2 separate regions of the Homo sapiens genome follow, and region 2 is linked to region 1. Evidence: fine-mapped expression QTL. A gene starts in region 1. The other region holds a variant in brackets. All regions are shown on one strand. Distances are from middle to middle. Region 1 holds the start of RERG (RAS like estrogen regulated growth inhibitor). Region 2 holds the start of RERG-AS1 (RERG antisense RNA 1).

What was found. PIP is the estimated chance that this variant, and not a neighbour inherited with it, causes the effect.
Region 2: its variant is fine-mapped to the expression of RERG in tibial artery (GTEx, PIP above 0.99).

Annotation. Positions count from the first base shown.
Region 1 is chr12:15,212,824-15,228,919 of GRCh38, forward strand. RERG (RAS like estrogen regulated growth inhibitor) reads right to left here and starts at 8,594. Exons shown (of 5, transcript NM_032918.3): 1 at 8,372-8,594; 2 at 4,606-4,780. The coding sequence starts at 4,666. It overlaps LOC124902886, which reads left to right and starts at 7,845. Exons shown (of 1, transcript XM_047429948.1): 1 at 7,845-9,155. The coding sequence starts at 8,422. The coding sequence ends at 8,739.
Region 2 is chr12:15,148,982-15,165,077 of GRCh38, forward strand. All of the region lies in intron 2 of RERG (RAS like estrogen regulated growth inhibitor), which reads right to left. It overlaps RERG-AS1 (RERG antisense RNA 1), which reads left to right and starts at 2,942. Exons shown (of 3, transcript NR_046559.1): 1 at 2,942-3,089; 2 at 5,259-5,359; 3 at 6,215-6,302. LOC124902887 (a long non-coding RNA gene) reads left to right here and starts at 13,594. Exons shown (of 3, transcript XR_007063223.1): 1 at 13,594-14,848. The variant C/T (reference allele first, on the strand shown) is at 8,424.

The DNA of each region.
Region 1 (16,096 bases):
TTAAAAGTCACATTTAAAATTAGAATAGTCCCTGTCCCACTTAAAAATAAGATGAAAAAAGCTTTTAAAAACTTCTTTATAATTGACAGAGAAAAAAGCAGACAAGAAAAAGAACAAAAAATAGGATGAAAAATCACTTCTCTTTGTGCCACGGAAAAAAATATCACAAGCTTGTTTGTGTTTGGCATCCAGTTTATAGCTTGGCAATCTGAGTCTATGAACTTAAGCCTTCATGGATGAGTGCACCAATTGGCTTTTGAATTACAGGATAGCATTACTCAATTAACTTTAAGACTAGCCCTTTCAAGCAATATAGTTAGCTGTGGCACACAATATTTCAGTTCTAAAATGAGAATGTCAACTGTGAAGCTAAATTTACAATTTCAGTTGTTTCTCTATCAGCCCCCTCCCACACTTACTACAAATCTGAATAATACGACTACAAGAAGCATTTAAATAAAAATGTGTGCATTCTAGGCTTATTGGCAAGTCTTATCACTTTAATTACTTGGAGCTTGTCAAAATATAGGCTGATGCACACAAGTAAGGAAATCTGTGCCTTGCATGCCACATTATTAGTGCTTCACCCTTAGCCAATGAAAGTAAATGTTTACCCGGCTGGGGCAAGAAAAGATAGAAAGGGCTGGGAAATCATGACCCTACACTTTGCAGCGTCCCCACAGAGTTCACTGTACTATCCCTATGCCAGCAAGCTCACTTGAAGACAGAACTGCAAGATAAACTTAGAAGGAACAAGAATTCCCCCAATACAGCAGACCATGTAAACACTTATATATTACACACATGTGCGTGCACATACACACATCCCTCACATGTTTTATCAGTGCTCCTTAGTAATCAGCACATTATTAAATTTTTGCCTTTGCTGACATGTCTGTGGTCAAACTGTCAATGAAAAAGTTCTGGTAAATGTTAAATTCTGTTTTAAATATAGACGGCCTATCTATCACCTGGGCTTAGGAAGCCATCTGCCACATACCAGAAGCACTTTCAAATTTAAAAGTGTTAATTTATTGGTGACACTAATATATTTCTGGCTTTTTACAAGATTAAATATAAGCCATACGAAGTATTGTTATGATCATCTGTGGTCAAGCTATAATTGACATTAACCAGATTTTAGGTTCAAGAAAGAGAAAAACAGAGAAAGTATGTGTGTGTGTGTGTGTGTGTGTGTGTGTGTGTGTGTGTGTGCGCGTGTGTGGAGTTTTTACCTTATAAGCTGTCTGACTTAGTGAAAACCAAAATACTCACTTGAATGCAAGTATATCTTTAATTGTATGTTTTCACTGTGGAACTTACAAATTAAAAAAGCATACCTTAACAAATTATAATAATATAAGCTAATTTTGAGCATTTGCAATGTGCCAGGAACACTTGCATGTAACAACTCATTCAATCCTAGTAACAACTGAGATGCTATTATATGTTCTTCATAGTTGAAGAAATCGACTGGTTAAGTAACTTGCCAAAGTTGCCAAGTTCACAGGGCAAACAAAAGCTCACACTCTTTAACTCCAAGCTATACGACTCCTCGTTAGCAAATGGGCAATATGGTCTTATTTACCCCCAATTCCTACTGGTATTAAGTGTGGGGAAAGTAGAGGGGACAGGTAAGACTTAAGCCTCTGAAACAATTCAGTGAGGAGCTACCGAATTACATTCCAGCAGGTATAATTTCTTGCAGACTTAAACAAGCAAAAGTTACCTATAAGACTGATAAAGTCTCTGCAGTAGAAAGATAAATGTGTGATACAATGATGAGGCAGAGACATCAAATAGCCATATTCACAAAGAATCAGAATCAACATAAATTCAATATTGTTGCAGTCTATTTTCAAAATTGTTGCATATGAGCCAGGTGTGGTAGGACACACTCGTAGTCCTAGTTACTGGGGAGATCAAGGTGGGAGGATCTCTTGAGCCCAGGAGTTGGTGGCTGCAGTGAGCTATGATCATGCCACTGCACTCCAGCCTGAGCGACAGAGGGAGACCCAGTGTCTTAAAATAAAATTGGTAGATATGAAGTAGTTTGTGGTCGTTTTCACTGAACTATGGAAAAAGGTTTCACAATTTTCACCCATGCATCAAACGAGTGCTACTTTTAAAATGTGAGGTGCAGTTACAGGTCTCAGAAAAATAATTTAATGTTGACATAGGAAAACACTGTCTGTTTATAGATGACAGACAAAAAGGCAATTGTTAAAGATATGTAGTCTGTCATTGTCATTTTCACCTAAATGAAAACAAACACAAATGGTGGAATGTATTCAAGGCAAATAGAGAAAACAGTCCAAAGAAGATTTGAATGTTAGAGTTGGAAAGAAACTTAGTGAGCAATTTCAACCTGTGCATTTTACATAAAATAAAATTCAGGTCAGCAGAATTTGATCTCTCTGTGCAGGTGTTATCTTCAGCTTTGGGTGTGAGTAGCACTTCTAGGGGCAGTGTATGGAGTAAGGACGCAAGAGGATGATATATAGAACCCTGGAAGCTTCAACTTTGAGAAGTGCGCAGACGAAGAGCAAACCCATGAAAACAGCTAGTTAGGAGCTACGGAGAGAGAGCAGCAAAGCCAAAGAGTGTGATGTCATGGGAGCCTGGGAAGGAAGGAATTTCAGGAAAGAATAAGCAGCTGTGTGATGATAGAAAGAAGTCTAAGAAGATCAGAACTGGAAAATGATCATTAGATGTGTTGGTCATTGTTTGGTAGTGACCTTAGCAAAAGCAGTTTCAGTAGCATGGTTGTAACAGAAGATGGCTATGTTTTAAGCAATGAATGGGAGAGTTAAAAAAAGATAAGACAGTAAGGGAAGAACCCATATTCAATAAGCTTGAAGAAAAGAAAAAGATGAAGCAGTGGACGAAGACATGCGTGAGGAAAAATGGTCAGGTGAGAATGAGAGGAATAATTGAAACAATGTGGGGAAAGGCAACGAAAACAGGCATCCCAGCTCAGGCTGATGCATGAGCCTTGACAGGAGGAGACACCCAGCTTGCTCCGAGATCATGAAGATGGGAAACGGATGGACGCACGTACAGCTACGTGGTTCTCTCAGCTGAGTTTTCATTTTTATGTTTGACTTCTTAAATCGCATGTAGGTTATTTTAACAAATGATACAAGGTTTTAAAAAATCTCCTTCCCTTATTGCCTTTGGAAGTCTGGAATGAAGGAATAAATGGTCAGCCTCAAGCCTAGACCCTGCACTCACAAGGAGTTAGACAAGCTCTTGCTGGCAGTGCACATCTTCTCCCACACTGCCTTCCCTCCATCCTCCACTCACAGGAATCATTTCCTCATTCTCCAGATCCTTCTACCAGCTACAGAAATTAGGTTCTCACGCCATTAGGAAACACTGAGGAGATTAACAGGGAGGAGTTTAACTATCTTCAATCTTGTGAAGGCTGGCAGTTTCTTAGCCTTGCCAACTATCTATTTTCCTTGTGTGGTTTCTGCCAGAGGCAAGAGCAAACCAAACAGAAGAAAATGGTGGTAGCAGGAAAGAGTACTCTTGAGAAAATTAAAAGAAAAACGAGAGACAAAGACTTAGAAGAGGGAAGATTACTGCTGAAATTAAACCAGACAGCAGGTTAGAAAAGAAAGGTTGGTCACAGAATTAAAAAGCAATTATGTGTATTTGTCTAAGATTTTGTGGATTACCTAATGTATTGGATTATACAGTTTATTTCCAAACAGGTTTCCCTCTACAAACATGCACCTACCAGATATCTGTTTGAGTCCTTTCCTGAGAACCAAAAGCTCTGTGTACAGTTAATTATGGTTCCTTCCTCCAGTAAGAGACTAAGGCAAGAGGTTACCCTGAAAGGTCATGCTGCCCTAATGTTTCAGCAACGTTGACTTTGGAATTCTTTAATTATAAGATCGAAGATGTATTTTTCAAATTAGATAGCAGGTACATTTTTCACTTCCACCATTTCACCCTTAATCTTAAAGGTCTGCTAGCGATTTCTCAGATAGTGAACAAAGTCTCTGAATTACTGATGTTAGCCAGAACTTGCTAATTTAAATTCACTGCAGAGGCATTCGCAATAGCTATCTTGCTTGAGAGCATGCACTCCTAAAGTTTCAGGAATCCTCTCAGGATTTTTGAGTGTTTGGCAATAATGCAATTCTGTTTCTGATAAAGCTAGATTCACTTAAGCATTTTTAAAGCACCTAACACATGCTTGACACTGGACTGTTTGCTGAGAATATCAAAATGAATGAGATGTAAAATCAGTCCCTCAAGATCTCATACATAGAGAAAAGAACAAATATATATTTTTTAATTTCCATCATCTGATTTCTTTGGAGGTTGTTAAAAATCAGAATGCCAAGACCTCTGATATATCCTTTATCTTGTGTGTTATCAGCAAAGCTACTTCAGCATAAATAAGCAAAAGGATACGTAACAGTCGATTACGCAAAATAAAAGTTCTAGATGAAGAGACTTTATCTAAAAGAGTAAGAAATGAAAATAGGAGGAATACCAACTACTCACCTGCCCAATCCCAAGAAACAGTAATAAAGAAACACACTCACCCACACACACACACTATAACAACCACAACGAAAATCTTACCTGACTTGCCCACGCCTGCTCTCCCAAATATTGCCAGTTTGACCTCCGCACTTTTAGCCATGATGGGTGTTGGTAGACAATTTACTGTTGTTAAAACTAAAGCACTGAGTAAATCTTTTTGGTTCCAGTCTTTGGATTCACCATATCATTGTGAATCTTGGAAGAGTCCACAATCCTTAAACAAAAGAAATTTGGGAATTCATAAGTGACTGGAAAATGAATTAATATTTATTGAGCATCTACTATATGCCAGCCACCATTCACTTTTTCAACATTTTCTGGTTTGATCTTTACCACTATCCTGTGAGAAGTCTATGGTAACTTACTGTAAATGATTTAACTAATAAATGGTAGATTCAGGACTTGGATTTGGATCTGGTTGGTACTAAAACGTGCATTATCACACACAATAGCATTTCTAAAGTACTTCCTCAAGAAATTTTCTTATGAAGGTATTGATTCTTGATAGTAACTGAAAGTAAAAGTGAATACACACATTTACCATCTATCTGTAAGCATTCAGTGTACAAACACATGCAGTGGGGCAATGGAGAGAGTCACTTTTGGGCCTCTTCATGTCTCTTTGGGTTGAATAACATACATTCATATTAGTCAACTCCAATGCAACACAATTCAATTTTGCATCTCAAAGTTAAATTTTTTCTCAATTCACACTTGATCACATGATGAATTCCTGTGACAGATACAGATACACATGTTCTAGGAATCAATATATAATACATAGATTACATTTCTATATTTTGCTGGACACAATGCCCTGGTACAAAAACGATAAATGCCATGCTCCAAGTTATTCCTTTTCTATGATGACTTCAAGTAAATTTGTTTATAGTGCTGTCTTAAAGCTTGGGAAATAACATTATGTACAAAGTAAGCACATCTTATTTAGTTTGGTGCTTTAGGAGTGACATCTAGGTTCTTAGGATCATGGAAACGTAAATTTGGAAAGAGCTTTGGTGGTGGTGGGGGCTGGAGTGGGGGTCATCTGAAGAAATCTTCTAGCCATTCTTCTAGCAAGAATCTTTCCTTAGGACATAACAATCATTCCATATTCCATGCCTGACTTACCACTTCCAGGTATGAAAGGTGGGCTCATTACTTCTGAAAGCTGCTTCATTTCTCCAATTAGGAGGAACTATCTTTCTAATATTGAGCTCTAAACTGTCTCCCTGCGGCTTCTACTCATTTGTCCTCATTTCTCTCTATGAAATAACTCAAAACAAGTCAACTTTTTCTTTCACTCAGAACCGTTCAAGGATCCTAGCATCTAGTAGGACCCTTTGCTCCATCCTAGGCTTCTTTTTTCTAGGAACATGAGGCCCAGCCTGTCCACTTGTTCTTCCCGGAATGTACACTCTCGTTTATGTTTTTTTGACCTTCACTCCCTTTTTCATCATGTGCATTGCCTCCTCAACATCTTAATCACTCTAAAAGCATGGTGTCCACTGCATTCCACTTTGAGATATGACCTGACAAACTGACCCGGTGTAAATTCCCTGAGATTTTCACTATCGTTAATCTGCCCACCATGGTTATACTGTAGCACAGCCAATCACATTAAGCCTCACATCTTTTACACGGACTGCAGACCCCCTCATTCCGAACATTTGCAATCAATGGCTTAAACCTAAATACAGCACAGCACTTTTACCCGTGTTAATCTTAATCACACCAGTCTGCATAATTCATTCCATTTTCAAGGCAGTAAAGATGTTTTAAACACAAATATGTTATCTAAATGTGTTAAATGTTCCTGCCAGATTTTTCCATCTATAAATTTTTACAAAGAGCTTCTTGAGAGAGAAATTAAAAAGTGAAAATCCGCCTGAAAAAGTATTTCTACAAAGACATTATCATGTAATTGTTTTCTTCCTTAGGTATTTAAGCTATCATCCTGTACCTAATAAGGTTTTGTATTTGCTGATTTTCAAAGTGCCAGAGCTTCCTCTGAAGGAAGGAAAAATCAACATTAACATTAGCTATTGTTTACTTCATCCTCAATAATGACAAAGTGTCTAAGTAATCATTATTAGCAAAAACCAGAAGCTTAAACATCTGCAATTTGTCCAGTCCCATATTTTTGGCTAAAGATAAAAAGATTTCCTTATTTGTCACTTTAGATGCATTCATTAAGAAAAGGCCCTATGTTTTTAAGGTTCAGGGCTTCATCACAGAAACATAATATGTGGAGATATATTAACTATTTAAATTATAAATGAGAAGAGGTGCTGGCAAGTATTTCTTTGAAACATTGAACACGCAAGTGTCTGCAGCTAGTATAAACAATAATTTTGTTTCATGCAAAACTGTTCATATACATGGATATAAAATGCAAGTAATTATCTGTCTGATTAATGTTTCATGAAAGTAGCCATCAAATGTGATTTTAAAAAAATGACAAGTCACATTTTTTAGTAACTCCCAAATGGCCCCAGAGGCATAGGAATTTCACATAAGAAAGAGAAATTGTGTGGGCTATTTTTTCCATTTATAACCTAATAAAGATACAGCTGGTTATTGTCAACCTAATTTTATGTTTAGAAAAATCACTTAAAGGAAGACACAAAACTGACAGGAGTTCTTCAACATTTTATTTCTCACATGAAAATGTGAAAAGTTACATTTGACAAGATAGAAAACAAAAATAAATATGTAAATTGTTGTAATAAGTAAACTGTTGCCAAGTTTCTGATGTTCCAAATAATTCATAATCTGAGAGCTTCCATACGTGGATCTAAGAAAATCCATTTGTCCTAATGTTCTGCTGAAATATTCTGAGTAGGGCTGAAATTTGCCATTCACTTTTTATGTGGATGGTGCTTATTAGGACAAAAACATCTCAGCTGCTATCACTCTAAAGGTAAAATCATACCTATTTAGTTTGAAGGTGTAGGTTTTTTTTTCCCTAAACATAAATTAAAGGAAAAAGGAAAAACGCTAGCTAAAATCCTGTATTATTAGTGATGCATTCATTGATTTATTCCACACTTTCACGCTATGCACATACAAATAAAAGTAGTTCCCTTCGAAGAGCTTACACTCTGTTAGACCTATGATATTTAGATAACTGTAACCTTATTTACTTACTTATTTAAAGAAAGTTTTCATTCCTAATAAATCATTCTCAAGGCTATATTTATCAAGGTTCATGCTTTCTACTTCCTCTTGGGGGTGGGGCAAGCAAGCGTCTTTATAAGGTAATCATGCTTGGAACTTCTGTTTGCATGCGCTCATCAAAATCAAGTGTAGCTATTTAGGGAAGCAAAGACCCTAGTCTAGGCCTGGAAATGAGATTCTCTTCTTTTTTGGCCTCCCCTTCTCTGGTTCTGAAATCAAGTTTTCCTGGTCTCATTACTAGGAATTCTTCCTCTTCTTATCACTACGCAGTACCCACAGCAAACCAGGATAATTGTATAAGCCCCTTGGCTATTTAATGTTGCTCTGAACTCAACAGGTATCTTGCAAGAATAAACAAATCCATTGTGGACTGCAAGTCACTTGCTTTCAGGCTAGGGAGAAAATGCAGCCTTAAGTCAAAAGGGCATTTTCCCTCTCAGCTAGGAGAGCCCTGTCAAGATAGGCTGCTGGTGTTCACATCTCCCTCGCAGCGAACCCCAAAGCCGCCCTGGGAGGAGAACCCGGTGACCAAGAGGACCGACTCAGAGGCCGAGCGCGCTCAGGGCTCGGAATGGGTCTGCAGGAAGTCGTCCCGAAAGAGCTGCCTGGACACGTGCGTGACACTCACCTGTTCACACTCTCCAGGCCAGGAGAGCTACGGTCCTCTGCAAGTTCGGAATGGGTCCCCCAAGATCGCGAAGCCCTCCCACACTGCGCAGCCCAGGCTTCAGGTTGCGTTTGCGAGTTGCTGGGCTGCGGTCGTGGGTGGGACTCGCCGCAGAAGCAAGTGCCAGTGGCCCGGCGGGGGTCTCCTCACTCGCGCTCGCTCCGACTAGCGGCGGAGGGACTGCGGCAGGACGCGAGCTGAGCCCGGCCAAGGCCGCTGCGCTCAGCGGCCAGGATGCTGCAGTGCGGCGCTTCGGCGCCCCCTACTGGGGGCAGGGGCAGGCTCCTCCCGCCGCGCTGCCTCCCAGGCTTGCGAGCTTGGGTCTTTAACGTGCTGCACCCAAGACGGGCTTCCCTTTTTCACTGGTTATTTCCAAGCCTCCAGGCTCCCACCGAAGGGCGGCTTTCCTCGGTCAAAACCTTGCCTAAGAAAGCATCACTACGTGGTGTTTTCTATTCCTTATTTCAAATGATCCTCGCAATATCTCTTTGAAGTATCTTTAATTATCTCCATGATACCCAAGAGGAAACTGAAGGAGAAGGTAACGCAAGGCTAGTAAATGGCTGGAATGAAATCCAGACTGGATTGGGAACTGAGAGATGCTAGGAAAAACAAACAAGGAATTCAATTGAAATTCTATTCATATATTTGAGAAAGTTCCAAAAGCTTCTCGTCCTCCTTACAGGATCAGCATTTATAGGATTTGCATTGGAGTCATACTCCATTATGCTCAGACCCTAACAAAGACAATTAATATGCGAGCTGTGCTGGACCTGCTTTCATATCCCTCATCTGATTTGATTTTTACACCCTCTCTTCATGTAAGAACTAGTATTATAATTACTAGCCTTTCACAGATGAGGAGGTGAGCTTCAGAGAGGCTAAATGATCTCCCAAAAACTGAAACATCTGAGCAAAGAAGCAGGAGGCACTTATGTTATTGTTTTTCCCTTATAAATCTGGGTATTCTTACCAAGATACCAAACGGCTTCCAGAAAACCAGTGTTATATAGAACAGACAGGGGCCTAGGGCAAACTGAACGATCTGTAGAATGTCATCAATGGGAAGGGAGGTAACCATGGAGGCAATTTCCAGAGTCCAGACTGACCTGGAAGGTCACTGCAGCCACGAGTGAATGGCTGAATGGAACAGCTAGATCTATGGCAAAAAGAGGAGTTGCCTAGCTGAGCAGGAGCTGCCCTGCTGGTTCTTTGAGAAAGCTCAAACATTGTATGGTTTATGAGTTTCCTGATCACTAATGTACCCCTCCCTCCACACCACATACATCTGGATTAGATGCCTCCCTCTGTATCTCACAGGACCCTGTGATCTTATCATTGTGTTTGTGTTGTACTCATTTCTGCCCCTTAGTCCTCTCCATTAATCTGTGAGCTCCCAGAAGCCAGGAATGTACCATGTGTGACTTCTGTATTCCCAGCATCATCCATACAGTGTGTATACCTACAGCCTGGCATATAGTAGGTAGTTAAAGAATACCTACTGAATTGAATGAATTAAGATAAAGAAGAAGTTGTGATAGGATATGTTTGAGCTTTTTTACATACTGGATTTAGGATAGACCATCCAGTAAGAAATTGAATGTATGGGGCTGCGACATTTAAGAAAGAGGCCTGGAAAAGAGAGAGACTTTGGTGTCTTAGCATGCAGAAGATCTTTGAAGTCTGGGATGGGATAATAATTACCCAGATTCATTATATAGAATCTTACAGAATTCCAATTACATGGAATCGTGTGGCATTAAGGTGTTCAGGTTTCACATGTTACCTTGTTTCCCCCATTAAATCTTATACTCAGGGCAAGATTTAATAAAAAAAAAAAAATCTGTGACCCTATATCTGTAAATATACTATTTACAGAGACTTGAGTTGGAATTCCCACTTTGCCACTCTTATTTAATAAGAGTTATTGACCAGCCTGGGCAACATGGGTAGAGACAGCGTCTCTACTAAAAATACAAAAAATTAGCCAGGCGTGGTGGCACGCATCTGTAATCCCAACACTTTGGGAGGCTGAGATGGGCGGATCACCTGAGGTCAGAAGTTCGAGACCAGCCTGGCCAACGTGGTGAAACCCCATCTCTACTAAAAATATAAAAATTAGCCAGGCGTTGTGGAAGGAGCCTGTAATCCCAGCTACTCCAGAGGCTGAGGCAAGAGAATCACTTGAACCCCAGAGGCGGTGGTTGTAACAAGCCAAGATCGTGCCATTGCACTCCAGCCTAGGTGACAAAAAGAGACTCTGTCTCAAGAAAAAAATAATAATAGTAAGTTTTCGAAGAGGGCCCAAGCCAGGTCCCATTTGTAGTAGTTCTTTTGGAACTTGCCTATGGAACCTGATTCTCTCCATTTTCCTGCTTAGCCCATATAACAACAGCATTCCTCCCTCAACTAGGGAGGCATTTGCATACACATCTGCAGTTCTTGATGTGCTGCTCTAAGATAGATGAAGTAGCTATCTTGGAGCCTGACTCCCACTGTGTTACATCTTCCGTATGTATCCTATATTCTGCGGGCTGCTTCCTTTGTCTCTAAAGCAGCAAAAAGAGGCACGCTCTCTTGTGCTGCCTGCCTCATGGATCAGTAAGAAGGGCAGAGGACACTTTGTACTTACGGTTCCATGACATATGTTTGCTGGGCAAGAATTCTCCTGGGGAAAGGGGAAGTCCTTGTCACATTCAAGTCTCTTAGCCTGGCCTTAGGCTTCAGCTAAAACCTCTAACACAAAACAAGTAGACGAAGTGTTGATATAACCACAAAGCATGTTAGAAACTGGAATTGTGTGTGTGTATGTCTGTGTAGCTGTTAATCATGTTTGTTATAAATAATTCAAACAGTAGAAAAATACAAAGATGTAGAAAATCATCCCCAGAATCACACTATCCAGAAATAATAACCATTGTTAACATAAGGGGACCATCATCATTCCAGATATTGTAGAAAACAGACATCCTGATGGACAGGTATGTGAAATGGCACAGATATGCTAAGTGTCATCATCCTGTAGATGCTATTTTTAATTTAAAAGTACACTTAATGAAGCAGAAGATAACAAAATTAAAGTGAACATTAAAGGCTGACCAAACTTTAGATATTTACTCACTTCATGAGATAGTCACTTACTTCATGAGATATTCACCCTAAAGATTCCTTTACAGTTTGAATTATTACATAAAACCAGATCTGAATTCATTATGCTTAAACATATATTTGTTTTAGTCAATATCAACTGACTGTTTGCTATTTAAAAAGAAGAAAATAGCTCTTTTATTATGTCTCTTTTTTTCTTCCCTCCTTCTATATTTTTACACAGGTTTCGTTTGTTCATTGTCAAGATTTGTAACATTCACTTTCCACTTATAACTCTCATTCCCAAAGTGGTTTAAACTTAGTTCTATATTTAAATAGAATAAATTTCTTTCATTGATTCTTTTATCATGTTTTTTCTATTATTGATTATTTTGATTCATCCCTTGATATCTTCATTAAGCAATGTTTTCAAGAAGGTCTTGCAGGTGCTGTATTGTATAATTGAGAATACCTGTTTCTTCCTTTTCTTGTTGTTTTTAAATTTGTTATTAGCCTACTTTTGCTTACAATGACCTTCTCCTCCTTTTTTTTCCTGTGTAGTGTGTTTTTATATTTATTATTGGTTTCTTTTTTAGATCAAGACTCATATTTGCTATGATACAAATTCAGTTAATTGTGCTTGACTTCATTCCTACCTTGTCTGAGGCCTGTTTGTTTTTTCTATAAAGCAATGGTTTGAAGGTGAGCATTGCATTCTGTCTACCATCCCGAGATGAGAAGGTGAGGGCTTCTGAGTCTCTGTGCAGCCTCTGAGAGAGGTTACATGCTCTGCTTTTGTTCTCAGGTTTTACTAAAGACTCTGTCTCAGGATTTAATGCAGGCCATCAGGATCACATACTGTTTCAGAAAGATTCCCTTAAGCCTGAGATTGCACTCTTCATTCATTCTTGGAGCCCTCTACTCTCTCTCCCAAGCCATTTCTACTATGACTACTCACTCTGCCCTCTCCTCCCATCAGAAAAGGGTAAGTGTAGTTGCTCAGTTCATTTCACTCCAAATTTGCAGACATTCTTAACTGGTGAGAAATAATACTTACGATTTGATCACTCATCAGTACTGCTTCTGGAAAGCCAGGACTTTCTATATCATGATCGTTTATTTTCTTTATTTCATTTTGAAGTTACATGGCAAGAAATTATACTCATTTCCTTATTTTGTTGCTACTAATGATTATCTTTTGACTTTGGGATGAGTATTTAATTGCTGTTACCATTTATTTAGTTAAATATTAGGCAAAGGCAAGACTGATTTTAGCTGAGATTGAACTTTCCTGTTTACTGGGAACAACTATAAAGGCTAACCAAAATATACAAAATAGCTGTTTGGAAGCATTGGCAAACAACCAAGGCAGGGCTGCACATCTGACAGAGGGGATGTACTGGAGTTTAGCCTCACAGGCACACAAATTTTCTTGTTGGGGGCATTTTAAGGGCCCATATCCATGAAAGTGAAGCCCAAACATCAGTGAGAGATTAGGGTTCAGGGCTACTAAAGCAACTGGGTTCAGAAGGCTATCAGAAAGGGCAGCAGCCACGGAGACAGAAGCTCAGATATTTGCATGGAAATGTCCCTAGGATCTTGGCTAATTTCAGGGCTGCACATTGCGTGGTGAGTCTCTGAGACATCTGGTAAACATCATCACTGGCCATCAGAGAAATGCAAATCAAAACCACAATGAGATAACATCTCACACAAAACCACAATGAGATACCATCTCACACCACTTAGAATGGCAATCATTAAAAAGTCAGGAAACAACAGGTGCTGGAGAGGATGTGGAGAAATAGGAACACTTTTACACTGTTGGTTGGACAGTAAACTAGTTCAACCATTGTGGAAGTCAGTGTGGCGATTCCTCAGGGATCTAGAACTAGAAATACCATTTGACCCAGCCATCCCATTACTGGGTATATACCCAAAGGACTATAAATCTTGCTGCTATAAAGACACATGCACACGTATGTTCATTGTGGCATTATTCACAATAGCAAAGACTTGGAACCAACCCAAATGTCCGACAATGATAGACTGGATTAAGAAAATGTGGCACATATACACCATGGAATACTATGCAGCCATAAAAAATGATGAGTTCATGTCCTTTGTAGGGACATGGATGGAATTGGAAATCATCATTCTCAGTGAACTATCGCAAGAACGAAAAACCAAACACCGCATATTCCCACTCATAGGTGGGAATTGAACAATGAGATCACATGGACACAGGAAGGGGAATATCACACTCTGGGGACTGTGGTGGGGTGGGGGGAGGGGGGAGGGATAGCATTGGGAGATATACCTAATGCTAGATGACGAGTTAGTGGGTGCAGCGCACCAGCATGGCACATGTATACATATGTAACTAACCTGCACAATGTGCACATGTACCCTAAAACTTAAAGTGTAATAAAAAAAAAAAGGACTGAAAAAAAAAAGAACAGCTGCCTAAAGTCTGAAAGCTCCTGAATCCCAAGATGTGAATTACAGAGTTCTCTGAGTGCTGAGAAGACATCCGAGTTTCAGCCCAGTCAGCGTTCAGAAATCTTTGTGAAGTAGGAGTGAGGACCATTAATGCCTTAGGCAGAAGGGCTGTAACCTGGGACTAAGGGTGGATCTGAAAGACAACCCCCTACAACAGAGACTAAAATGAGACCTTTACAGGAGCAATCTAATCCACCAGCAAATTAACAGCCTGCCAAAACAAAATACAACACTCTTGAAAAAGTTAACAGGATCCAGAGCCTGTATAACCATCATCTACAATGTCAAACCTACTGAATTAGTCTGCTCAGGCTGCCATGACAAAGTACCCCGGAATGGGTAACTTAAACAACAGAAATATATTTCTCACATTTATGGAGGTTAAGAAGTCCAAGAAAGTTTCATTCTGAAGCCTCTTCTTTTGGCCAGCAGGCGGCCCTCTTTATGTGCTCACACGACTTCCTCTGTATGAGTGTGTGGAGAGACAAAGAGAGCTTTCCAGTGTTTCTCTTTATAAGGACATTCGTCTTATTGGATCTGATCCATCCTTATGACCTCATTTAACCTTAATTCTTTTTTGGAAAGGTTCTATCTCCAAATAAAATCACACTAAGAATATGGCTTCAACATATGCATTTTGAGGGCACACAAACATTCAGTTCATAACATAGACAATAAACATTTCCAGATAGGCAAGAAGCACATAAAATTTATCAATACTCAAGAGATAAAAATACAAGATAGATGTCTATATATTGAAGTAATTAGATGAAGACTTCAAAATCGCTAGGATTATTATGTTAAAACCAACAGAGGAAATAATGGACAAAGACAGATAAAAATATAAAGTATTTATCATATTTTTATCCATTTGGGGATATTTCACAGAGAAATAGAAACTATGAAAAGGATCAAATAAAAACTTTAGAACTATAAATAAATACTTAAAATTAAGAACCCATTTGAAGGGTTTAACAGTAGATTGAAAGATTGGAAGACAGAATAGTAAATCCAACGATCTGTCATTAGAAAATGTCCAAAATGGACCACAGAGGAAAAATAAACAATGGAAAGATCAAAACAGAGAATGAAAAATGTAGAACATGATCAAAAGTCATAACACACATGTAATTGGAGTTCTAGAAAGAGAAGAATGAAAGGATGAGATAAAAGCAATAGTTGAAGAAATAATAGCTGAAAATTTTGCAAATCTAATGAAAGGTAGTAATCCCTCAATTCAAGATGTTTCATGAACCCCAGGCAAGGTAAATAAAAAGAAAGCTAAACCTACATGCATACATCAACTTACTGATCAGCAAAATACAGAGAAAATACTAAAAACACCTACAGAAAAAAAACAAAAAAGACACACAGTTTTTAAGAAAAAAATACAGTAAAAATGGATTATAGCCTCTCAATAGAAACTGTGGAAAACCTAGGACAATGAAAAGGCGTCTTCAAAGTGCTGAGCTAGAATTCTGTATTTGTTGAAATAAGTCATTCTCAGACAAAATTTGAGATAGTTTATTGATTGTCAGCAGAACAATGAAAAAAATGATTTCAGATGGAAGCAAAACCAAAAAATTCTAGTAGTGGCAGCAACTCCTGATAGGGTAAATAAATGGGTAAAAATAAATGAATATTAACCAATGAAAACCACAAGTATAAAAATGTCTTTACCAGGCGTGGTGGCTCATGCCTGTAATCCCAGCACTTTGGGAGGCCGAGGCGGGCAGATCACCTGAGGTTGGAAGTTCGAGACCAGCCTGACCGACATGGAGAAAACCCGTTTCTACTAAAAATACAAAACTAGCTGGGCGTAGTGGCACATGCCTGTAATCCCAGCCACTTCGGAGGCCGAGGCAGGAGAATCACTTGAACCCGGGAGGCGGAGGTTGCAGTGAGCCGAGATCACGCCATTGCATTCCAGCTTGGGCAACAAGAGTGAAACTCCGTCTCAAAAAAAAAAAAAAAAAAAAAAAAAAGTCTTGTGGGTTTATAATTTCTGGAAGTAAAATATATGACAGTAGGAAACAAAGTAAGAGGTAGAAATTAAGTTATGCTGTTATAAATTTCTTACATATTGAGGGATTTGGC
Region 2 (16,096 bases), 64 kb before region 1:
CCTCAGCCTCCCGAGTAGCTGGGACTACAGGCGCCCGCCACCACGCCCGGCTAATTTTTTGTATTCTTTAGTAGAGACGGGGTTTCACTGTATTAGCAAGGATGGTCTCAATCTCCTGACCTCGTAATCCGCCCGCCTCGGTTTCCCAAAGTGCTGGGATTACAGGCGTGAGCCACCGCGCCCAGCCTGCAGTCCTTTAACTCTTAATGTTCAATATCTAATAGTGACTGAGAAAAACAGGGCTGTGTTTATTTGCTTATTTGTTCTTTCTGAAAAATCAAGACTTTTTCATCTATTTTTTATCACTTCATCTCAGGCTTTCCTTATATAGACTGAATTCTGATACTTAATTCTTAACATATTTTAAAATATTAATAGTAAAATGTATCTTTATATTTAAAGCCAAAAAAATGTATCCACATCTACTATGAACAAAGAAAACACCAGTGCTAGGCACTGGTGGGAGGGGAGGTGGATGATACATGAAAGCACAAGACAGAATTAGTACTCAAGGGCTTTGCAGTTCTGATGGGGAGAAAGATGTTCATTAACAATACTAGTTCATGGCAGAATGTGACCTGTGTTGCATACTGGAGGGGAAAAGTGCTACTTCTATAGAAGAGGGTGGAGACTTTAATGAAAGGAATTCCACTTCCAGTAATTTCTCTCAAAAGATCTATTGGACAAATGCAGAAAGTTACATGCACATAGATGATTCTTAGGTTAATATTTAGCCTATTTGTACTAAATAGCCAACAGCATGATTATGCCAACATGCCAATTCACATGGATACTGGATTTAGAAATGGTAGAAAATAAAATACTTTAAAGAAAAGTTGTTTCTGTTCATAAATGGTGTCTAGGACCAGCCTACAGATCTCCACCATCCTCGTTTCGTGACTATGATAGACATTACTAATCGATCATGTCATACTTTCCTTTGCGCTCTATGGCCTTAGAATCCTTCCTTCCTGAGAGTTACAACCCACTGAGATGAATGCATTTGCATATGCAGGGTATAGACAGTGGTTCTCCTACTATGCTACTTTGGTCTGTGAACCCCCCTGAAGGCTACTGGGGGAAAGGACGGGGAGGGAGAGTAGGTACAAGGCCAAGACTGCTCACTTTTGGACCACAGCTATGATATTAGAAGGGAGCTTAGTAGTCACCTTTGGATGGGATCTGGTAAAGATGCAGTGATGATATCTCAGGAGTTTTTCATTTGGGAATATTTACACAGTGTAAACTGTGTAATATGCATTTTTATATATTAAATATATTTTATACTTCAATACAAATTAAACAAACAAGCAAAATAATAGCTAACCTATCAGAGCCAAAACAAGATGGCGAGCTGAAACTTTATAGACCGTCAAATGTAGGCTCATATCTAGGCTCAACATTGTAACTTGCCGTGTGATTTGGGCAAGTCATTGGAGCTCTCTGTTTCATTTTCATTACCTGAAACAGGGATAAAGAATATCTAACTCATAGGATTGTTATGAGGAGTAAATGGCGTAATAAGGAACTTAGTATCATGTCTAATATATCATCGTAATATGTTAACAATGATAACTAACATTTATGTTCCCAGATCTGTTCTAGGGACTTAGTTTTCTCCAAAAAACCTTGTGTGGCAGGGCCTTTATTTTACAAAGAAGGAGACTGAAGCAGAGACTTTAATTACTCATCCAAGATCTCTCAGCTATTAGGTGGAAAAGCCAGAATTGGAATTCAAACAGGCTGCATATTAATCGCTGCATTCTCTTGTGTAATGAGGACCTGTTAAACAACAGTTATTACTATTACAAGAATAAATCCTGGCAGAGATGTGGGAGGTTATAGGGAAGAATTGAGTGTGGGCTGAACTGCTGTTCACCAGGAGGCAAAGGGCAACTCTAGGGTTAGGCTTTGAAATTCTGTGCTAAATAAATGGCTGCTATTATTATTATGCAATCTCCATACCTAATTTGAGACAGAAAATGAAAGTACATAATACATGCAATATTGTTATTGTACTTTATAAATACAGAAAACAGCTTGTGGAAACTTAATGCCATGCTCCCCTTTGGTCCACTACAGCCTGTTTCTAAAATCTACCCCAGGGGAGCATTCTACCTCCGTAGGCTACATCCAAAATCAGTCTTGGTTTTGTTGTGACTATGGGTGATTTTTTTCCTCTGTATTTTCTACGTTTTCTATAATGAACACACTTAATCTTAGAGTGGAAAACTGACTTTGAAAATAAAACAAAGCAAAAACAAAAACCAATCTCGGTAAGTCAATAAGAACCACATGTCTTTTAAATGGAAAACATGCCTATTTCTCCTTTGTTTCTTAGAAGCAGCTTGCCAGATACACAGTCCACAGCTTTGAACCATTTACATAAACATACCCAAGCCAAGTGTTTCCACGCAACAGCCAAATTGCACCCATATTAGCAATTTAATGACTTTGAAAGTAATAAGTGGTAGAAACTGATATTCACTTTGCTGGAATTCACCTTAGATATTCCTTACAAACCACAATCCAGTGGCATTTGTTGTAGATTGTAGATGTAGATATTCAAGAAACTTTGAAAGAAAACACTATTCATCTTGAGATGGGGGGAAAAATGCTAAGTGGTAACAAAAGGTAGAAATCTTTCAGGTGAAATGTAATGTCCAGGAACTGAATGGTAGTGGATCATAGTAAATCATCCACCAGAGGGCACTGCCAGAATATACAAAGTTTTCTTGGAAAAGATTGGACACCCCCTAACTCTAAGCAAAGAGAACTAATATGGTTAGGTTAACAGAATTCCACTTTTATTATGCTTCCTTTTCCTTTATAAATCAGGTCAGTCTTTTCCTCCTGATGAAGGAATTCATGAACTGCATGCTACCCTTACTGTTATGACTTCTAAAACTGCTGCAACCATTTGATTGGAAAAGTATTTTACAATAAATGCTGCGTTCCATGTGCTAAGTACTGAAGTTATTACCATGACAACAAGACCACCTTCTTGCCTACAGTTCGGAGATTAATAAAGGGCTCCTGAGATAACCACAAGGCACATGAAATAACCCAGGAACTATAAATTGCAAAAGGTAAATGCTGTTTTGTTTTGCACTTAAAGTACCATTGCTGTTCAGTGAAGGGAATATTGCCCACAGATGTTTTGGAAAGCCATCTGAGGAAGGCACAGAAGGTTGTACAAATAGAATAGGCAGAAAGGAAAGCAGAACACAGCATTAGCAAAGTCATAGGAGTCAAAATTTCATTGCTAAGGAAAACTAGTGCTTTTCATTTCATATTTCTGGCTGTCCTACTGACTTGGAATGCTTCAAATGCACCAATTCACCTGCCTTAGATATGGACTGATACTTCAGTCCCATCTGCTGTAATAGGTGAGCTTTTCATATTTTCTGAAGCTATTATCCATAGTGTTTCCCCTCTAATTTCAAAAGCCTAGAGAGAAACAATATGGAAAAAACTCTTGTTTTGGACAGAGAAGGCTCTGAAGCAAGCCACCTCCTAGAGATGGAGAGCTTCATTTTGTCCTGCCTGAGCCAAGATAGGACACAGTAGGAGTTTGCTGCAAGAACACAGAACACATCAGGTTTTCATGTAGCAGTGCCCTAAGAAGGAAACTGGACAAGGATAACTTGAATTGAGGAAACCAGTCCAGCTGGAGCACCACCCTGTGGTTTCGCATGGACTAGGAATAGAAATTTGCTCTGAAGAAATGTATTTTTAAAAGTTAACCTTCACATGGTATTTGAAGTTTCATAGAACTTTTTTGGATTGGAACCAGATCTAGCATGCATGTTCTTAGGTATTAAAGCCTAATATTATTATATTACTCTTTGAAAAAAATGAATTCTTTCATCATAGTAATTTTCTTAAAATATAACACTGCTTTTTACTTATATTAAATTCTCTACTGTTTCTGATGTTATGCTACTTAGGAAAATGCCATTTTCTTGTTAAATTAATATGTGCAGACAAGTATTTACTTACCACACATGAACATGAGCCCCTTATAAGTCATCACTCCTAATATTTATGGTCTAAGAATGAGGTAGTTCGGGTGAGTCACATATTTACACTTAGCAGAGAGATTAAGAAAAAAATTCGCACCACAATTTCCCTTAAGTAATGGAAAAAATGTGACTTGTTACACATTTGTTTTCTGGGTCAGTGTTTTTCCAGCTTTTCCATAGAGTCTTAAGGTCATCCAAGGTTTCTTTAGGTTTTCCTAAAAGAAAGAACTGGGGAGTTGTGATGGGTGCTTGATTTTAAATGTGATAACAATTATCTGCGACTTTTAGAGAACACAGCTAACCATTGTGAAGATTACTGTTCTGGATAGTGAAAAATATGAACCAGCAGTATAGGCTTTGAATGTTTGAAATTGATGATCTTAAATTTCTTAAATAACAGGGCCCTAGACATGCACTTTGCTCACAAAAGAGATCTTTTACCCCAGTCTTTAGAAATTTGCTTAAAGTGGGAGAGTCTAGTATTTATAAATAAAAGGAAAGCAGTAAGATTCAGAAAAATACCATTGAGATTTATAAGGAACTAGAGAACCATAGTTCCTGGAAAATCCAGGAGTAATTGAATAGCTTTTATAATATAAAGAAAAAGAATATTCACGGTGCATTACTTTTGGCAGCCTATCATCTAAATATGGCACCCAGAATAAATGCATTGACTGAAGGGAAATTGTATGATTTGCATAAATTTTACCAATGGCTATAAATTATCCTCTCTGGTGATTTTTCAAGATAGATAGTGTTATGGGTTGAATTGTGTCCCCTCAAAGGACACTGAAGTCCTAATCTTAGTATCTGTGAATGTGACCTTATTTAAAAATAAGATCTTTGTTGATGATCAAGCTAAGATGATTTCATTGGAGTAAGCCCTAAGTGATTAAATATGACTATGTTCTTATGAAATGGGGAAATTTGGACACAGAGACAGACACACACAGAGAGATGATATGGAAACATAAGGAGAACACCATCTGCAAGCCAAGGACGGCCTGAGGTTACCAGAAGCTAGGACAGAGGCAGGGAACAGATCCTCCCTTACAGACTTTGGAAGGAACCAATCCTTCTGACGCCTTGATTTTGGAGTTCTAGCCTCCAGAAGCATGAGGCAGTAAATTTCTGTTGTTTAAGCCCCCCAGCTTGTGGTACTTTGTTGAGGCAGTGCTAGCAAACTAGTACAGTTATATATTCTGAATCCTTGTCTTTTGGCTTGCCATTTAGCCCCCGAGTCTCCCTGGCAATCAATAAAGCACAGAAGCTTTGTTCAGATTGCCAACCACCCGGTTCAGTTCTGGACAACCTCATACTGCCATCCACGTAAGGCAAGTTCCTTTTAAAGTTTGCCAGACCAAAGCAATTAAGAGGGCAAATCTGTTGGAAAAACTCACATATTGCATTATGAAGCCAAATATAAATTCTACTTTGATTATTGTTCCTTATGAAGGAGAGCAGTGTCTCTAATAATCAGAAAAGAATCAGGGATTGATTGTATTTCATTTTCTTCGAGGAAAATTTGGCCAAATAGCTAAAGTAACCTGATTAATGAGAAATTTGCAGAATGGGAAAAACACTGCAATTATAGGCAGCAACCATGGACATCCGCTGATGGCCAAAGAACATAGCCAGTCTTCTGGTGCGTACATTATGTGGCAGCTCGTTGGTCTCCTGCCAAATAGGACAATCAATGTAGGTTGAAATTTGTCTCAATCTCACTCGGCAATCATATTCATAAACACTGCCTCTGTGTCTTATTTAGGTGAGACAGCAACTTAAAGACTATTATGTAAACAGAATTTTCATACCTAGAATTTTAAAAATGTATTAAACTTTAAAAGGGTCTTTCCTAATATTTGATGGAGGAGCTTCAGAATAGTTAATTTAAATGAAATTGTAGTATTATATATTTTCATTTTTTAAAATGTTAAGTTGCTAAGTGTGAAGGCTTTAGACACTGACACCTCATATTGATTCTTGCTTTACAAAGAGACTTGGAAAAGAAACCAGTGTATGTATAAAATGATTAATTGGGATAAGAAACTCAGCTAAGAGATATTCAGACTGGAAAAAACTAAATAAAGAATATAAAACAAGCAATTAAAAAAAGGAAAAAGCAGGCATGGTGTTGAAGTATATGAAGTAATCTAACACCACTGTGTTTTTTCATCTTCATTTTCCAGTGTCTATGCTGCATTGTAACTTTTGGAAAAACATGCACACACCTGGTGCCACCTGGGTAGGTGTGACCAGAACCTGCCTGTTGGAAAATAAAGGATTAAAAAAATGAAATGAGAGAAAGTGACACATAAAAGGACAACTTAAGGTTTCCGCAAAGCAAATACATAACCAAGCTGATCAACCCTCCAGCATAGTCCTTCTGAGCTGTGTTTCCACAGGAAAATGAGGGTAGAGGCAATCACAAAAGTCTTGGCTCTCATCCACCCCTGTGGCCTGCTGACACAGGCCCAGCTTGCCAGAGCACTGGGGTCACAATGAAGTTGCTGCCAGTAGAGCTGCTTTCATTAAAATTGAGTAAGAAGAACAGGTAATGGGGTTGGGCAGAAACTAGGACCTGAAAGTGGTTGGGATTGGGGGACTCCTGTCTTCTAATTGGGAAGGCTGGGTAGGGCTTCTTGGTAGTACCTGACAATTATCTTGTTCTAGCATTTACAGCCTTTCTCTACTCCTGGAGTCACTGCAGGGCCCCCAGGGGACTCTGAAAACAGCCAGTTGTTAAGCAAGGGTATTCTCCACTAGGGCTACCATGAAGTTTATATTATAGAGCTGGATCTTTCACCCCTTTTGTGCTGTAAACCATTTGTGCACAGCCTTTGAACTATTTCTCATAATAATACTTTTTAAATATATATAAAATATATGTCATTACAAATAAAATCAACTATGATGAAATATGGCACATGTATACATATGTAACTAACCTGCACAAAGTGCACATGTACCCTAAAACTTAAAGTATAATAAAAAAATATATATATATATTTATAAATATTGATATACTGTTAGAAAAACATTTTTTAAAATAAATAGGTGATATAGTAATTACATTCTTTATTAATATGTTCAATATAATCTGGTCTTGAGCTTATTAATTATGATTTCACATTAATGATGACGAAAAATAACATTTTGAGATATCAGCAACAACTGATACGAATGGAAATATCCATCATTTCTATTAGGGACAAAGTCACAGGTATTGCTAACACTGTGATTTGTTTCTACATTCATCATGGAAGGCAGTGCCAAATGTCATTTAAGGGTGCATGAAAATGTAGATGAAATGTTTTCCCATACAAGTTCACAGACCCCCTGAAATCTACCTGTGGACCCTTTGCTGGATCTGGAGTTCAGGTTAAGAACCCTGCCATACAGGCTTACCCATCCTAATACGGAAGTTTACCACAAATACCACATCAGCTTTCATGCAATTGTATGATAATTACCAACTTTTAAAACAGTGTCACTTTAATCTCTATCTCTCTGATGATTCAGAAATCACTTCAAAATTTTCACAAGAAGTAACATTGTGAGTATCAAAAAATTTGCCCTGTAGACTTGGGGAATGCTTGTTAATGAAATTACTAGGTTCAGAAAATCTCTAATAGTTGTTAGTATTTTCTTTCTAAACAAGAATGTGCAACAAATGATGCAAGAGCAGAATGGTATTATCATTGCTTTGCGAGTCCTCAGGAGAAAGAAATAGAGTGATCAATATGATCAATAAAACAAGGCAGTTTAAGCTTAAGTCAGACCCTGAAGTCAGGCGCATTTTCGTGCAAATCTCAACCCTACTACTCACATTTGACAAGTTATTTACTTCTCTAAACCTCTAAGCCTGTATCTGAGCTACAAAATAGGGATAAAAATAGTGCCTATCTCATAGAGATATTGAGGGGATTAAACGAGGTAATACATGATAACATACTAACTCAGGCTCTGTTGTTAGAGGATCCATTGCCCCTCTTGCAAAATGGGAAAATGGAAACCATCTTCAAGTCTGTCAGACATCTCTAAGCCTGTCTTTTCTTCCAGCCTCTTTTCTTGGAGTTGCTCTACATTTTCCACTGTAGTGGATGGCCTCCGTTTTTCATTCGGCATTGCAGGAATTTTGAAGAATACACAGTTTTTGAAAAGAGACAGACAGTTCAAGAAGACAGGGGAAAACAGAAGAGGCCACTTATTTTGCATATAAGACAGATGCTCAGGGCATACCAGAATAGCTTAGAATTATTTGTAATCAGCAGATATGAGTGTAGGTCTGGTATCAGCTTTAAAATGTTTTGTAATGTTGAGAAATATTTTACAATCCATCCACCCCCAGTTTTCCTATGACAAAATGTCAAGAGGGACGTGCAAGAAGCTTGAGAA[C/T]CAGCAAGTAATTTTTCATATGAATTCCCACTAGTTGGGACTGACTTGAAGGATGTAATTTATGGCCATTCTTGGGAAACAACCATGAAAATGTAGTGCTAAAGCTTGTCAGCTGCTTCCTGTCCCCTAAAGTGGTAGAGATAACTTACCAGAGTGTCCCATTTTCACTCTTTTTGGTTCCCACATTATACTTACAAACAAATAAAAACAATACAAACATGAAAGAGAACTCCAACTTCAAAGCACGCAAAGATAACTGATGACTAGGAAATAAGAGCTTTGGCTGCTTATTTGAATAAGCCAGGCTTTTCTTTTTCATCACAGTACAATGTAAATGACTGCCTTTACTGATGAGAAAATTTTGCTTTTCAACATTTTTTTGTCACTCTTTTGTATATATTTTCAAACTTAGAAAAAAGCTATGAGAAAAGATTACATAACTCTCATATTCTGTTTATCCAGATCCACAAACTGTTTACATTTTTCCCATTTGTTTTATCATTCACTCTCCCTTCTCTCTATACATAAATATTTATGTATAAATAAATATATATACACACATTCATATTTTTCTGTACCTGAGAATAAGTTGGAAACATTTTGCCTCCTTACATTTAAGTGTTTCAATATCTATACTTCATAATAAATACATTTTGTAGGATAACAAAAGTATAATTATCAATATCAGAAAATTTAACATGATGCAATGACATTATCTAATCCACAGTCTATATTTGAATTTCTTCAATTGTCCCAATCATGCCCTTTCTAGTTACTTTCCTCTCCTTGGTCCAGAATCTAATCTAGGACTGAACATAGCATTTAGTTGTTATAACTCTTTACACTCTTTTAAATTGGAACAGTTCCTCAGTTTTTTTGTTTTTTTGTTTTTTTTTAGATAGAATCTCGCTCTGTCATCCAGGCTGGAACACAGTGTTATGATCTTGGCTCGCTGCAGCCTCGACCTCCTGGGCTCATGTGATCTTCCCACTTCAGCTTCCCAAGTAGCTAGGATTACAGGCACACATCACCACACCTGGCTAATTTTTGCATTTTTTTAAGAGATGGGGTCTCACTGTGTTGCCCAGGCTGGGATCAAACTCCTGGGCTCAAGCGATCCACCTACCTCGGCCTCCCAAAGTGCTGGGATTACAAGTGTGAACCATTGTGCCTGGCCTCTCAGCATTTTTTAATGATATTTCATCTTTGACATTTTTGCAGAGTATAAGGAATTTTGAAGAGTACACAGTTTTTCAAGAGAGATAGACTAAAATGTCCCTCAGTTGTCTAATACTTCCTCATAATTAGATTCGGATTAGGTATTTTGGGGCAGAAATGCTACAGAACGATGTGTGTCCTTCTTAGTGCTTCATATCAGGAGGCATATGTTGTTGGTTCATGTCCCATCATTGGTGACATGAACTTTATTTTATTAAGGTGGCATTATTTTATTTTATTTTATTAAGGTGGCATTTTTTTAGAATTTTCCAATGTAAAGTTATTATTTTTCTATCTGACAATTAATGAGCAATTTGTGGAAGATATTCTGAAACTATGTAAATATCCTGATCCTCACCACACTTTCACTCATTAGTTTCAGCCTCCACTGGTGACTCCTGCCTGAATCAATTATTTTGATAATTTCCGAATGATAGTTTTCTAACTTGTCATTTCTTCTACATTTATTGGTTGATATTCTATTGTAAGAAAGAACTTGTCTTTCTCCCTGTTGATTTTTTTATACACTTACTGTTTATATCAACAGGGAACCATGTATTCTTTTTTTGTTCAATGGATTGTAATCCATTACTGACATTACTTTGTCTCAGAAGTCACCAGGGAGAGTCCTTTCAAGCTGGTTCTTGTGTCCTCTTGATAGGTCCCTACCATTTGTGGCCTACAACCACAATAGTAGTTCATGCTTTTGCATAATTTGCTGCCTTACTAGTACAGAAATACCTTTTTCGTTCTCACATAAAGATAATTATTTACTTTTACAGAAGGGAGAATTATTATTGATTTAACTATATATTTTAAACATTGTATTTGGCCTCTCAGGATTTTTAGTTTTCAAATAAAAGTTATTGATTTGGACATATTTATATCTATTGATACAATTTAAAAAATCTTAATGGAGGGCTGGGCACGGTGGCTCACGCCTGTAATCCCAGCACTTTGGGAGGCCGAGGCAGGCAGATCACGAGGTCAGGAGATCGAGACCATCCTGGCTAACACAGTGAAACCCCGTCTCTACTAAAAATACCAAAAACTTAGCTGGGCGTGGTGGCGGGCGCCTGTAGTGCCAGCTGCTTGTGAGGCTGAGGCAGGAGAATGGTGTGAACCCGGGAGGCGTAGCTTGCAGTGAGCCGAGATTGTGCCACTGCACTCCAGCCTGGGCGACAGAGCAGGACTCCGTCTCAAACAAACAAACAAAAAAATCTTAATGGAAACAAAACAACAACAAAAAATCCCAACCAAATTTATCTTCCAAACAATGGAAAAGGGTGAGATTTAATGCATCTTGGCCTAAGACAATTAAGAAAATTTTGATATTCCATAGTTGATATAAGAAGGAAGAAAGCAGTAGAGATTATCATACATTTTGGAAAATAGAGGGAAAAATGAACACGAATATTTAGTATCTATAACAAATTTCTACTTGTATAAAACAGCAAATCTGTTTCATTATAATGGCTAAGTACAGTTCTCCACAGTTGAGCAGTTTTTATTTGTACACTTCTATATATGTGCATATATATATGTGCACATTTTGGTCATTTTTTTTTGTTTTGAATCCTTGTCTTGATATTGTACTGAAAACAGTAGTGTTAGATTGTGTATATTTCACGAATTCTAAGTACAAAGCACTGTGACCCTCGCTGGGCAGCACAGTAACCATGCGCGGGTACCGACCACTTGACAAGCTGAAATGAGGCACACAGGGATTGCAGCAGGTGCAAAGCATCTCAGGTGCCGCTGAAACATGGCTTTTTAGAAAACTTTTGTTAAGGGCTTTTCAAAACTTTTGTTAAGGGCTCCATCTATAAAGGAAACAAGAAGAAATCACACCGCAAAAGGTATGCAGAATTTGGAGTGTAGCCTTAGATTTGTTAACCTTTCAATCTCAGTTTCTTCATGTCTAAAATAGAAATCACAGTAATATTTAAATTATTTATCCCACAGGATAATTTTAGTGATCAAAAGAGATACTGCCACAATAAAATACTTTGCATATGAAAAATAATTATATTAATTATGATCATGCTTTGTCCAAAGACATTTGAAGGCATTACACAGAATGCTGGAAGTCAAGAATTAACGCAGCCCCACAGCTTGGATGGCAGCATAGTGGAGACGGAGATGTAAGAATTGAATTGGAAAAATACATCAGGGTTTGCTCAATAAGCATTAAAGCCTTAGGGAATAATACTCCTTAGAAACAGGGGCATCGTCTGGGCGCAATGGCTCCCACCTGTAATCCCAGCACTTCGGGAGGCCGAGGCAGGCAGATCATCAGGTTAGGAGATCAAGATCTTCCTGGCCAACATGGTGAAACCCCGTCTCTACTAAAAATACAAAAATTACTCAGGTGTGGCGGCACATGCTTGTAGTCACAGCTACCCGGGAGGTTGAGGCATGAGAATTGCTTGAACCCAGGAGGCGGAGGCTGCAGTGAGCTGAGATCACGCCATTGCACTGCAGCCTAGGCAACAGAGTGAGACTCCATCTCAGAAAAAGAAAGAAAGAAAGAAAGAAAGAAAGAAAGAAAGAAAGAAAGAAAGAAAGAAAGAAAGAAAGAAAGAAAGAAAGAAAGAAAGAAAGAAACAGGGGCATCACTTAGTGTTTTGCTCTATCTAGTACAAATAAAGTAATAAAGTAGGCCACTGTGTCACACAGTATAATCTGTACATATGGACCATCCCAAGGAAAACATCAGTCAACAAGTGTATTCTTTGGAGAATGTTTATCTTCTCCTTAGGTCCTCTCCAGTCTCAGGAATAATAAGCTAGTTCCTGAAAGCCCCTTGTACAGTGCACAGACCTGTTCACCAAACACTCTGGACCTTCCTTCCTCCTTCTTCCCATTTACATTTTGCCTGTTCAGGAACCAGCCAGATCCCCTTCACTCACCATGAGTAGCTGGTGCACTCAATTAATTCTCCTGGAAGCACATGCATTTTAGAAAACGATTTTAGAGACTCACTCATTCACTTGATTGATTATTTATCAAGCACCTATTTTGAATCAGAACCTATGTTAGGAGCCTGGACTTGAACCATACACAAGACCTACAGTCTCTGCCTTCATGCAGCTTACTATCTGGTGGTAAAGATATATAACTAAGGAATCAATACTACCAATAACAATAATAATAATAATAATAAAACATATTGTTGACCATTTACCATGTGCCAAGCACTGTTCTAAGTATTTTGCATTAAAAATCCTCTTCCCAAAACATACAAAGTATATTCTGTTATTATTCCCATTTCACAGGTTTAAAAATTAAGTCTTATGAAGCTTAAATAATTTTCATAAAGTTACTAAGAGGTGGAGGCAAAATTTAAACCCAGTATCCTTACCTGGTAAGGAGATTCGAGAGCATTGTAGAAATACATTGTAACTTAGACTAGTGGTAGGAACGGAAATTTTCCCTGAGGAAGTGCTGTCTAAAGAAAGACTTGAAAAATGAGACTACTGCCTTAATCAAAATGAATCTCTTATGAATTTCAGAATACTTACACAGAACAAGAGCAAAGCAATGGGAAGAGGAATGTTTGAGGGCCGAAGGACCTAAATCTCATTGCTGAAATGGCAGACTACTCTGGTTATGCACTGAGTGAAACAAGGTCCAGGCACAGCCCTGGCCAAGGACTGCCTCCAGGAGAAAGTATGTCTTACATCAATCAGAATAAAAAAAGAAATCAGGAGTTCAAATATTCCAATGTATCAGATAAATCCTCCAGCTAAGAGGACTGGGGAGAGCTTGGGCATATAAATATTAACTATACAGGCTTAAAATCCATAATTAAGAACCCCATTAGAGTTTTCTCTCATTCTTAGAGACAGGTCCTATAGCATTGTTTTTATGATGAAGGAATAATTAAGATCCCTAATTATCATACATGTCCCATTATACATAAGCATTATACATCCATTGGTCAAAACATAAATGGTACTACAATGGGTGGGAGTATTGAAGTGAGAAAAGGCAGCAGAGAAGCCTTTCTTCTACATACATGAAGAGCTCTTTTGTTCTCAAGGAAGGAAAATATAACATGAAGAATTTTTTAAAAACACAACCAAATAAATTTACGGTGTGGTTTCAGCTTTATTTTTCTGGGCTCTTAAAGATGACCTAGTCCAATTCCCTTATTTCACAAATGTGAAAATTATCTCAGAAAGGTAAACTTGCCTATCATCACACAGCTAATTCCTGCCACTGTGAAAAATGGAACCTAGACCTCCTTACAATATTGCTCTAGACCTTAGAGTCCTATAACATACGTTTATATTATGAAGAGTTTCCATTCTTCCTATTAGCAATAGGTTTTATGGAGATGTTCAGGTTAAGCCTAGATTTTTGCTAAGAATTTTGATGAACTTTGCTGAAGCAATATGAGTATTATTTGCCCTTGAGCCCCCGGTTGTGTTAACGAGGATCCCTAGTTTCAACCTTTTGTTGAAACATCACAAAATGTAGGTGGAGACTATAGCACTTTCTTTTGCAGTGAGTCAACAATGCCAGAAGCACTACACAAAAGCCAAGCAGACGTTATCCCTGCCAGGTGGCCTGATATTGAAAAAAGAGAAATAAATAATATGCTAGAAAAATTGGATGACTCAGGGAGCAGGGAAGAAGAAGAGATGAAGATTAAAATTGATAACATCATTTTGTGACTCAGAGTCATTTTTCCTGGATCATATTTCAAACGTTGCCCTTGTTAATTTTCCAATGAATATACAGATTTGAAAGCAAAGGAACAATGACCCAAAAGAACTAAGATTCGACATGAATGTGAAGAATTGGGTTACATAGGGGAAGTGTTTCCAGTAGCGGATAAGACATACATGTGGAATAGAGGAAAGAAAGTAATTTAATAGTCAGATGGTCTCTGCTGCGAATCCAGATCTGCTCAGTGAGAGTGTATCATAGGGTCTAGCCAGGAAAACAGAAACCACTCTACGTCTTTCAAACCGATGCATTTAATCAAGGGAAATTATTATCCAAAATGATGAAAAACCTGAGAAGCCATTAGGAGATGGAAGGCAACAGGAGAAAACTGTAACCACAACTAGAGGTGATGAAACAACAGGAGGAAATGGGTAACCAGAGCCCAGCATCTGGAGCTGTCCAGGAGAAGCTGGAGTCAGTGAAGACTGCCTAGTGGGAAAGACGATCATTGAAGGAGGAGCTTTCTTAAGGTAATTAGAACTCTAGATGGGACCCAATTACTCCACAGGAATGGAAACATCACAGGAAATACTACAGGAAGGGGTAGGGCGGAGAGAGAGAGGAGAGTGGAGAGAGGAGAGAGAGAGAAACATTGTGGTTTTTCCTTTCCATATTGCAGTCTTCTGCTACTACCTCACATTGGCCAAATGTGCCAGAAATGAAGAGGAGAAGAGAGACAAGGAAATGCAGTTCTATTTAAAACAGAGCAAAGCAGGGAAAGAGCAAGAATGGATGAGGTTACTCAGTTAATTGACTAGCACAAGGCACAGTTAATAAGGTCTGACTCCAGAAGACTCACTGATCTCTGAGCCAGTCCTGACTGGAGCAAGTTTTACATAGGGGCTCCATTACCATTTGTGGGGCCTAGATTCATCCATCCTCCTTTCTAGAGCTTCTGAAGTAAGCTCAAAACTCACTGCCTATTCACCAAACTTTAGACTTCTCCTAAACAATCTAAGTATTTGGGACATCCATAAAGCTAATGTCCAGCTTACCACATGAGCCTTCTCTGAACCTACTCCCTTCTTTTGAGACTTTGACAGCCTGTGAAGCTCATTAATTCCCACTTCCAAGGGACATGAACAAGGCTTGCACCCCCAACTTTGGGCTAGAATATTGATCCGAAAAGGATTGATCATCTGGGGCTTCAGTGCAGCCACCTATTAGACGTCCTGTATCACCACTAGCAAGTTTCTCCAGGCTCTGTGTTTCCACCCACCCATTGGACCGCCTTGATATAGTCAACAGCAGAATTTTCTATTAGTTGCCATACCCTGAGCTGTATAGACTTTGTCTTAGGGGGCCAACAGAACCACTGTTTACTTTGCTGGGCTTGGATTACCCATGGTCCACTAAGCAGTCACATTGAATTTTCCTTCTTTATCTCTCCCTCAGAAATTTGCCACCCACAAAAGGTGTTAACTAGCACAAAATAGTCAAAGGTGTATGAGAATAAGATAGAGTTAAAACAAAATTTCCTTTGGAAAATTGACCTTTTGCACCTGGAGAGAATCCAAAGGGTATTATTGAAGTTTTCCAGTGGAGCACTCTCTTCATTAAGCCAGGGTGCCGCTCTGGAAATTTTAATGTAAGAGCAAATTGTCAATAATCCTCTTGGCACTAAAGGTTGTGCTCTCTCTTTGAGGTCTCAAACAGCTCCTCCAGAGCAGACTCAGAGCTAAATGAAGAGTAGGAACAAAATGTACCAAAACCCAAAT